Homo sapiens: one gene and its partner. The protein of the gene in region 2 purifies or fractionates together with the protein of the main gene of each other region. This does not show direct contact. Each region holds a gene or a part of one and is shown on either strand. Other genes may lie near its edges.

Region 1 (4,986 bases), on a different chromosome or scaffold from region 2:
CGGGGTTTCACCAAATTGGCCAGGCTGGCTTCGAACTCCTGACCTCAGGTGATCCGCCTACCTTGGCCTCCTAAAGTGCTGGGATTACAGGCATGAGCCACTGTGCCCAGCCCAATCATCTTTTATTAACACTTACTGATTTGAAAGAGCTGTTATATGTAAAGGAAATGAACCCTTTGGCATATTTGTTGCAAATTTTTTTTTTTTTAGTTTGTCCTTTACTTTATCAATGGTATTTTTTCCAAAGAGAAGTTTAAATTTTTCCTTTAAAAATTATCAGCTGGGCACAGTGGCTCATGCCTGTAATCCCAGCACTTTGGGAGGCCAAGGCAGGCGGGTCGCGAGGTCAAGAGATCAAGACCATCCTGGTCAACATGGTGAAACCCCGTCTCTACTAAAAATACAAAAATTAGCTGGGCATGGTGGCGCGTGCCTGTAGTCCCAGCTACTCGGGAGGCTGAGGCAGGAGAATCACTTGAAGCCAGGAGGCGGAGGTTGTAGTGAGCCGAGATGGAGCCACTGCACTCTAGCCTTTTGACAGAGCAAGACTCTGTCTCAAAAAAAAAAAAAAAATTATCAATATTGGCTGGGTGTGTTGGCTCGCACCTGTAATCCCAGCACTTTGGGAGGCTGAGGTGGGCCGATCACCTGAGGTTGGGAGTTTGAGACCAGCCTGGCTAACATGGCGAGACACTGTCTCTACTAAAAGTACAAAAATTAGCCAGGAGTGGTGGCGGGCGCCTGTAATCCCAGATACTCAGGAGGCTGCAGCAGGAGAATAGCTTGAACCCGGGAGGCAGAGGTTGCAGTGAGCTGAGATAGTGCTACTGTACTCCAGCCTGGGCGACAAGAGCGAGACTCCGTCTCAAAACAAAACAAAACAATATTGTATTTTACGGTTTTCAGATCTTGTGTCATTCAAAGGTTTTAAGTAAAAAAGGGACCTAATCAGATTTGCATATAAAAAACACTGCTATGTGGAAAATTGATTGGAGGGGGCGGGGCAGCACAGAACAAGAGGAGCCAGGAGACCAATTAGGAGGCTGAATGATGACAGCTTGGATGGGAGGTGGTAGGACTCTGAGGGTGGGGGTGTAAGGGTAGCGGTGGAGGTTGGGGATAAGCAGGGGGGGTTGTAGAGAAAAGAGGGGTGGATCAGTGTTTGGTTTGAGGGAGAAGTTCAACTGGATTCCTCCCCTTGGATTTTAGAAGAAACCTGTGTCTCTGCAAAAAATTATTTTTTTGTGTAAGCTAGCTAGAACTGTTTTCCACTGCTCCTATGCAAAGAGCCTTAGTAAGCATTATCCATCAAACTGTAAAAATCAATGTATTACTTTTTTTTTTTTTTTTGAGACAGGGTCTCACTCTGTTGCCCAGGCTGGAATGCAGTGGCGCAATCTCAGCTCACCGCAACTTCCGCCTCCCAGGTTCACACAATCCTCCTGCCTCAGCCTCCCCAGTAGCTGGGACCACAGGCACCTGCCACCATGCCCAGCTAATTTTTGTATGTTTCTGTAGAGACAGAGTTTTGCCGTGTTGCCCAGGCTGGTCTCGAGCTCCTGAGCTCAAGTGATCTGCCTGCCTCAGCAATCCAAAGTGCTGGGATTACAGGCGTGAGCCACGATGCCAGGTGTATTACTCTTTTTTTTTTTGAAACAGAATCTCACTTTGTCACCCAGGCTGGAGTACAGTGGCCCAACCTCGGCTCATTGCAACCTCCGCCTCCTGGGTTCAAGTGATCCTCCCACCTCAGCCTCCCAAGTCCTGAGATTACCAGTGTGTGTCACCACACCCGGCTAATTTTTATATTTTTAGTAGAGCTGGGGTTTTGCCATGCTGGTCAGACTGGTCTCAAACTCCTAACCTCAAGTGATCCTCCCACCTCAGCCTCCCAAAGTGCTGAGATTACAGGCGTGATCACCATGCCCGGCTAGAAAATACAGTATTTTGATTTAAACCTGTAATCCAAAGTAGATTTAGAGAGAAGTTTTGAATGGTGTTAGAAACAGAGGCCAAGGCTGCTCCCTGGCCTCTCCCATGTTAGAGCAGATTCTTCTGAATACTCAGAGGAGTTACTAGGCAATGAGGTTCTAGAGGTCACACATACTGATTGTTACTCACATAGAAGCTTCTCCTTTTGCAGGGTGTCTGGTATCAAATCATCTTTTTCCCCAAGAGAGCCATTCAACAGGCATTGAGGGTTATTCTTCCGAACATGCTGATGCGTAGCAGAGTTTGGTAAACTGCCTCTCTGAGCTAAAAATTGGCAGTTTAATTAAAGTTGCTGGAAGGCCGACTCATCACTTCTAACATCTAGGTCAATACCAAACCACTACTCCTTTTATCACCACCCACCACCACAGCCCTTTGCAATGAATACACTGCATTTTTCAAAGAGCTTTCATATTCCAACTTATGTGAGTGAAGCATAATTATCCCCACCTTACAGCTGAGGAAATGGATGTGAAGAGGAGACTTGAGAAGCAGCCTGGTGTAGTGGAGTGAGAAAGGACTTGGCAGGCAGAAAGATTCTGAAGCTACAAGGGCTGTGTTGGAACTCAGAAAATGATAGCCAAAGGCTGGGAGGGTTGCTTGAGCCTGGGATGTGGAGGCCACTGCCCTCCAGCCTGAGTGACAGAGCGAGATCCTGTCTCAAAAAAAAAAAAAAAGAAAAAAAAAATTATGGCCCAAAGGTTTGGCACTTTGGCATACTGAACACTTTGAATTCAACATAGAAAGGGTTCCAACCCTCAATAACATGCAGTTTACCCATGTAACAAACCTGCACATGTACCCTCTAATCTATAATAAAAGTTGAAAAAATAAATTAAAAAAAAAATAGAAAAGGCTTGCAGAAGCTGCCTCAGAATCAAGGACTTTCTGACCTCTCCTGTCTCCCCACTACCCCAAGAGCAGGAAGGGACTCCTCTCTGGAATTCCTTCTAAGGAAACTTCTTTCCAAAAGAAAAGCAGTTATTTTAAGACCCCTTCCCTAGGAATCTCATCAAATAACCACTAAAGATGAACCACCGAAGAGGAGACTAAAAATTGTCACGACACCCAGATAGACTTTTCATCAATTCTGAGGGCAACTCAGAGATTACCTGGGCAACTATTTGCATAAGACAACCTTTCTTCAGTGAAGCTCCTCCCCTCACTTGCTTGCCACCCCTCCCCGGAGCTCAGAGGAACTTTGTCCCAGGACATGGTTTTTGGAGCTCATTCGTTTCTCCTGAATATCATTTACTACCTTTCACAATTGCCTACACAACCCCTCCCTGAATGTCTCTCTCCCCATGAAGAGGGTATTGAAACTTCAACAATCTGGAGTGCAGTAGCGCAATCTCAGCTCACTGCAACCTCTGCCTCCCGGGTTCAAGCATTTCTCCTGCCTCCGCCTTCCGAGTAGCTGGGATTACAGGCGTGCAACACCATGCCCAGCTAATTTTTTGTATTTTTAGTAGAGGTAGGGTTTTGCCATGTTGGCCAGGCTGGTCTCGAACTCCTGACCTCAGGTGATCTGCCCACCTTGGCCTCCCAAAGTGCTGGGATTACAGGCGTGAGCCACCACGCCCGGCCTGAAGTTCTTGACTTTGTATGGAAAGTAAAAAATTGTATGATGACCAGCCTGAGCAACATAGTAAGACCATGTCTCTACAAAAAAAATTTTTAAATTAGCTGGGTGTGCTGGCATGTGCTTGTGTTCCCTTCTAGTTGGGAGGTAGGAGGATCGCTTAAGCCTGGGAAGTCAAGGCTGCAATGAGCTGTGATTGCAACATTGCACTCCGGCCAAGGCAAAAAACAGACCGTCTAAAAAATAAATAAATAAATATCATAATAGTTTTGCTGTCATACTTCATATTGCAAAAGTAATGGCCACAGTACATAAGTACTTAGTTATGGTGGAAAAGGCATTAAATTTGTGGGTGGAAGATAGAAGTCTGTTCTGAATGACAGTGATTTGGATTTAGTACTATCAGTGGTTTCAGGCCATCCAGGGGCCTTGGAACCTCCCCCCTGTAGATAAGGGGGGACTAATGTAGTTAATAAAAAAGTTTAACAACATTCTTTGATAGAAATAAAATTAATACTAATACAATGAATATTACTCCATCTTATTTCAATATACCAGTAACAAAGTTAGGAAATTAAATTTTAAGAAGATCAATATTTATAATAGCATAAAAATATGAAGTATTATGAAAAACTATAAATCTTTATTGGGAGACATTAAAGACCTAAGTAAATGGAGATAAATATTATAGTCATAGATTGGAGAACCCAGTGTTGAAAAATTGCCAGTTCTTGTGAAATTTGATCTACAGATTTAATGCAATTCCTATAATCTTTTAAAATGTCATAAGCGGGCTGGGGACAGTGGCTCACGCCTGTAATCCCAGCACTTTGGGAGGCCAAGGTGGGTGGATCACCTTAGGTCAGGAGTTCGAGAACAGCCTGGCCAACATGAGGAAACCCTGTGTCTACTAAAAATACCAAAATTAGGCCGAGCGTGGTGGCTCATGCCTGTAATCTTGGCATTTTGGGAGGCTGAGGTGGGTGGATCACCTGAGGTCAGTTCGAGACCAGCCTGGCCAACATGGTGAAACCGTTTCTACTAAAAATACAAAATTAGCCAGGCATGGTGGTACACGCCTGTAATCCCAGCTACCTGGGTACTTGGGAGGCTGAGGCAGGAAAATCGCTTGACCCCGCGAGGTGGAAGTTGCAGCAAGCCTAGATTGCACCACTGCACTCCAGCCTGGGCAACAAGAGCATAACTCCGTCTCAAGAATAAAAAAAACACTGGGCGCGGTAAGCTCACGTCTGTAATCCCACCACTTTGGGAGGCCTAGGCAGGTGGATCACCTGAGGTCAGGAGTTCAAGACCAGCCTGGCCAACATGTTGAAACCCCGTCTCTACTACAAATACACAAAAAAATTAGCTGGGAGTGGTGGTGGGCGCCTGTAATCCCAGCTACTTGGGAG
Region 2 (4,986 bases):
CAGCACGGGGATGACCGCGACACCTGTCACCAGGAAATGGAACCAAGGAAATCCCTAATGAGAGGTCAGCAATGCCAGCACATTGTTTAGAGCAAGCTAATGAAAACCCCAGACTTTAAGAAACTCCGTTTTAATCTACAATACTGGCAGTTAATATTGGAAGCTATTTTAAAAATGTAATTAAAAATCATCACTTCCATGTTGTTTACACTTTCTTTTTTAAACAAAAAGGCTGTTTAATTGTCACAGTTTCTTAAACTAAAATCGGAATAAAACGAAACATTTCCTACAGGGTCAAGGATGTAAGGTTTCTGACTACACTGACCTTCCACAGAACCACTTTCCAGCGTGTGGCAGCCCTACCACTGGTGAGGCCACAGCCATCCCTGTGCTCCTGGGTCAACTTTGAGCAAGAAATCAAGTAAGTTCCACTGTCTGCAATAAATGCTAGCAAGACTGATTTTCCAGTTTTAGGGTAAAAGACCTTTCCTCTCAAGTTACTTGGCCTTCATTAAAACCTAAGAAAAACAAAAACGACTGGGTTTCAGAAAACACAAAGCACCCAGGAGGGTCCCCTGGCTCCCCACAGCTTCCTATCTGTGAAGCCAGCAGCAGCAGCATAGCTACTGTTTGCTTCCAGCAAAAATGGAAACCAAAACTAAATGGAAAAATAAGAAAAGCCTAGTGCCCAACTTCCCCTCGACCAGAGTGATTCTCAGGATTGTTTGTAGGCTCTTTGCAGTCAAGGCATTCATGCCTGGAGGGGAGGGTGAATGGAATAGGCTTTGCCCAATTAATTCCGTGTCCTCATCAACCTGTAAAGCAAGTGGTCCATAAGCATGAAGGTGTGCCAAGTAACTTTCCAAACTAAAGCCTCTCATCTAGATCCTTCCAACAGGACACAAGGACTTCTAGAAGTCATAACACGTCTAGACACAGGTGTGGCTTCAAACTATATTGATTTACATTTAGTTATAAACATTAGAACAACTTCCCCTCAAAAACAATGTTTTGGGCTTAGATAACAGAAGCCAGAAGTTACTTATAAAGAAAGCTTAATTTCGTTACATAGTATGGCAAAACCTAAGCGGAGATTTAAAGACACAACATCCTAATAGAAGTTAACTTGGTTCCATTGAAAACCCTCTTACGATCACAAGTGCTAACTTCCTTTCTAAAGGGTTGGAATAGGTTTGCACTCCTACCATCCGCAGTCTGCTCTTTCCTGGTTGTACGTTTCACTGATTCCCAAGTTCTGTTCAGGCAGAGAAGAAAAAAAAGTCATTAGTGCTACAGAAGAGAATTTTCTTAGGTTTTCTCTGTACAACCAGAACTTCTTAAATGCAATGCATGCAAATGTACTCATGATACTGGTCAAGAAGACCACAGCAATAAACGTCTGCATTAAAGAAGCTAATTCTGCTTTCCTATAGCTTCTGAAAATTAACAACGAAAACTCTTGCCACCCTACACCTCACCTTCTGGGTGCCCCCGAAACAGAAAGCCTGCTAAGCATGTGAGCTGCCGCTTTCTCAGAAAACTTTAGTTTGGATCCTATGTCTCTGGGCAAGGAGCACAGCCAGTGACAGATTAATAAGCAGGTAATGCAAATGAAGCCATAGGAAAAGACTCACCCCGTCTCTAGGAACAAAAGCTACTATGGACAACGTGAACTATTGAGATTTTCATATCATTTTGATTTTTAAAATATGTGACCTAAAACACACAATTTAAGAAGGTAGAACCTTCCCATTTATTAATGGAAGAATTATTAAATGTAGGCAAGTGCCCCTACTTTGCATGTGTGAGATCTTATCTAGAAAAAGTGGGCTGAGTAACAGCACAGTCCTGCTCTCTTGTATGGCTTTATTCCTGGTTAGCTATTGGTTTCTGACTGTTACCCAACTCAGCTTTTGGGTAACATCTGTGCTATTCTACTTTCTGGCCTTGGAACATGGGGCACAGTTGTACAGGAAACCCAGTTACTGACACAATTATGCAGTTTAAAGGGGCGAGGCATAAAAGGAACATTCTCCCTTCACTCTCTTCTCCCTACAACAGAAAAAAGCAGTGGTAAGAGACCAGAGTGGAGAAGCAAACAATTTTAGGATCTCTTTTAAAGGAAGTGAAACATGTGGGTGGCTCTGGGGCTTGGGATAAAAAGGAGTTACCACCTGCATCTCGATAGTAAGAGCTGCAAGATATCCTCCTCGGAACCCTCCTGCTCATGCTTCCTATCCGGCTGTCCTTAAAATTTGGACCTTGTCATATTTTCATTAAAATTGTTCAAATATTTAATTTGCTTTTTAAAAAACAAAACAAAAAGACTGTCTGGAAATTGTAGGTCTTTCAGCATTGTACCCAAATTCCGAAGGCCAAATATGTCAAAATGAACACAGGAAAATCAAACAGACTTCTATGACAACTCACAGCAGCCCAACATTCCTGTTAGTAGCAAGGAGCTGACCAACAAGCAATGCTGGTAAGTAAATCATACAGATTGCAAGAGATGAACACCTTTTGGCATAGCTCTCTCTGCTGCCTCCTAAGGTTAGTCCTAAAGACTGAAGAAGACAGTGCTGGGAAAAGCACTGAAGGTCCCATCCCAAACACTAGGAATAAGGGAAACAAAAAGAGGAGCATCATTATCGTGGTTAAGGTGAAGGAAACAAGCAGTAACGAGCCATAAATCACCAGCAATAAAACAGAAACGCATTGATAAGAAATCTCGGAATAAGATTGCCCAGTGAGAGCTCCAACAACTTCAAAGGGCCTGTGAGATGCACAGCTGACTGGAAGTCAGCTCTTCGTCTCTACTTGCCCGCCAGCTAAGCCCAGAGCTCCAGCCTCCCTGAGGCTCTTCCCTCCTTTGTAAAAAGCAGGAATGAGTATGTTTTCTCCAAAACCTCTTCTAGCTTTAGGATTCTGCTTCCAGTGAGATCATCCTATTCCTAGTCTTCTTTGTTATGGAAAAGCCTGTTGGCCTTCCTCCCTCTAGTTCACCAACACAAGAGGCGGGAGGGTCAGAGGGTGACTTCGGCACTGTCTTGAATGTCAATAGACACAACACTACTGGAATATTTTTATATTTCTAAAATTAACCCCACATCCCCTTTCATGAATGAGACGGTGGAACATAGGATTCTCTAGCTGCTATTTTATCTCTTAGACTCGGCCCTTCATATCCGTGGGTTCTGCATTCATGGATTCAACCAACCACCCATTGAAAATATTTAGGAAAAAAATTGCATCTATACTGAACAGGTCCACACTTTTTCTTGCCATTATTCCCTAAACAATAGAGTACGACTGTTGACACAGCATTTGCATTGTATTAGGTGCTGTGATTACTCTAGAGATGAAGTGCGTGGGAGGATGTGCATAGGTTAGAGGCAAATACATACTGAGTATCTGCATTTTCATATCAGGGACTTCAGCATCTGTGGATTTTGGTATCTGCAGGGGGTCCTGGAACCAACCCCGACAGACACCAAGTGACAGCTGTACAGGTTGAGTATTCCTTACCCGAAACGAGGGGCCGGAAGTGTTTCAGAGTTTGGTTTTTCAGATTTTGAAATATTTGCCTTACCCTCTGGGTGTCATGCAGGCCTTTTTGACATTTTGAACAGTATCTTTACCCCACAGAGCAGGAAATAAGCCAAAGAACCCCACAATGAGTCATGCACATAGGTCTCAGCCCTGTGTAGGGTGTTGTGGGGAACTGCTGCTGGGCATCCGGTCTGCACACATGCCATTTCATGACCCTCTGTGGGAGTACCTGCAGAGGGAAGTCGCCGTGTGCGTGCAAAGGATATATCGGGCCGGGTGTGGTGGCTCACGCCTGAAACCCCAGCACTTTGGGAGGCCAAGGTAGGAGGACTGCTTGAGTTCAGGGGTTCGAGACCAGCCTGGGCAACATAGTGAGACTCTGTCTCTACTAAAAAAATAAAAATTAAATAAATTTAAAAAAAAAGGATATGGCCGGATGCGGTGGCTCACGACTGTAGTCCTAGCACTTTGGGAGGCCAAGGTGGGTGGATCACCTGAGGTCAGGAGTTTCAGACCATCCTGGCCAACAACACTGCCTCTACTAAAAATACAAAAATCAGCCAGGCCCAGTGGCATGCACCTCTAGTCCCAGCTACTCGAGTGGCTGAGATAGAATTGCTAGAACCAGGGAGGTAGAGGTTGCAGTGAGCTGAGACCACACCATTGCACTCTAGCCTGGGCAACAGAACAAGACTCTGTCTCAGGGTAAAAAAAAAAAAAAAGAAGGATATAGCTGAGCTGAAGGGGAGGGTTCCTTTTCCCCTGGGGGGACACTGAATGTCTGTGTTGTATGCCTGTGTTCTGACTGCAGCCTGTCACACAGAGTCAGGTGTGGAATTCTCCAGCTGGGGCATCATGTTGGCAATGAAAAGGTTTTGGATTTTGCAGCATTTTGAATTTCAGATTTTCAGATTAGGGCTGCTCAACCTGTACACGCAGGCTTTTATATCAGGTCAGAGATAACACATCCTATAAATTATACATCGTGGCATACAGGAAAGTACAAAGACTCATTCTTCAAAGGGTGACATTCTGGTATAAAATATTAGTGCTTTACATAAATCCTCTTCAGAGGCCAGGAAAAAAACCCTATGTATGGAAGAATGGACATGACCATGCTATAAATATGGTAGTTTGGTGGATTTTAGAGCCTACTCCCAATCTACTGAAATAGATATTCTGAAGTGAGATTTCGTCGTATTTTCAGAAAAGTCCCCATATGATTCTGATGTACATCCCTGATTAGGAAATGCAGGAAGGGCAGAAGACCAGTCAGGCGAAGAGATGAGCTGGCGCGAACACATCTTTTTATTTTATTTTTATTTTTTGAGATGGAGTCTCGCTCTGTCGCCCAGGCTGGAGTACAGTGGTGCAGTCTCGGCTCACTGCAACCACCTCCTCCCGGGCTCAAGCAATTCTCCTGTCTCAGCCTCCGGG

What was found.
Region 1: the proteins of NUDT5 (region 2) and AGBL2 purify together in Homo sapiens (affinity purification with mass spectrometry; one large-scale study listed by BioGRID and IntAct). This does not show direct contact.

The regions. Positions count from the first base shown.
Region 1 is NC_000011.10:47,708,256-47,713,241, forward strand, and holds part of AGBL2 (cytosolic carboxypeptidase 2), read right to left. Parts: intron 2,257-4,986; coding exon 2,122-2,256; intron 1-2,121. UniProt on the Homo sapiens protein: Metallocarboxypeptidase that mediates deglutamylation of tubulin and non-tubulin target proteins. Catalyzes the removal of polyglutamate side chains present on the gamma-carboxyl group of glutamate residues within the C-terminal tail of tubulin protein.
Region 2 is NC_000010.11:12,177,878-12,182,863, forward strand, and holds part of NUDT5 (ADP-sugar pyrophosphatase), read right to left. Parts: intron 2,613-4,986; exon of another isoform or gene 2,518-2,612; intron 1,256-2,517; coding exon 1,206-1,255; intron 24-1,205; coding exon 1-23. UniProt on the Homo sapiens protein: Enzyme that can either act as an ADP-sugar pyrophosphatase in absence of diphosphate or catalyze the synthesis of ATP in presence of diphosphate.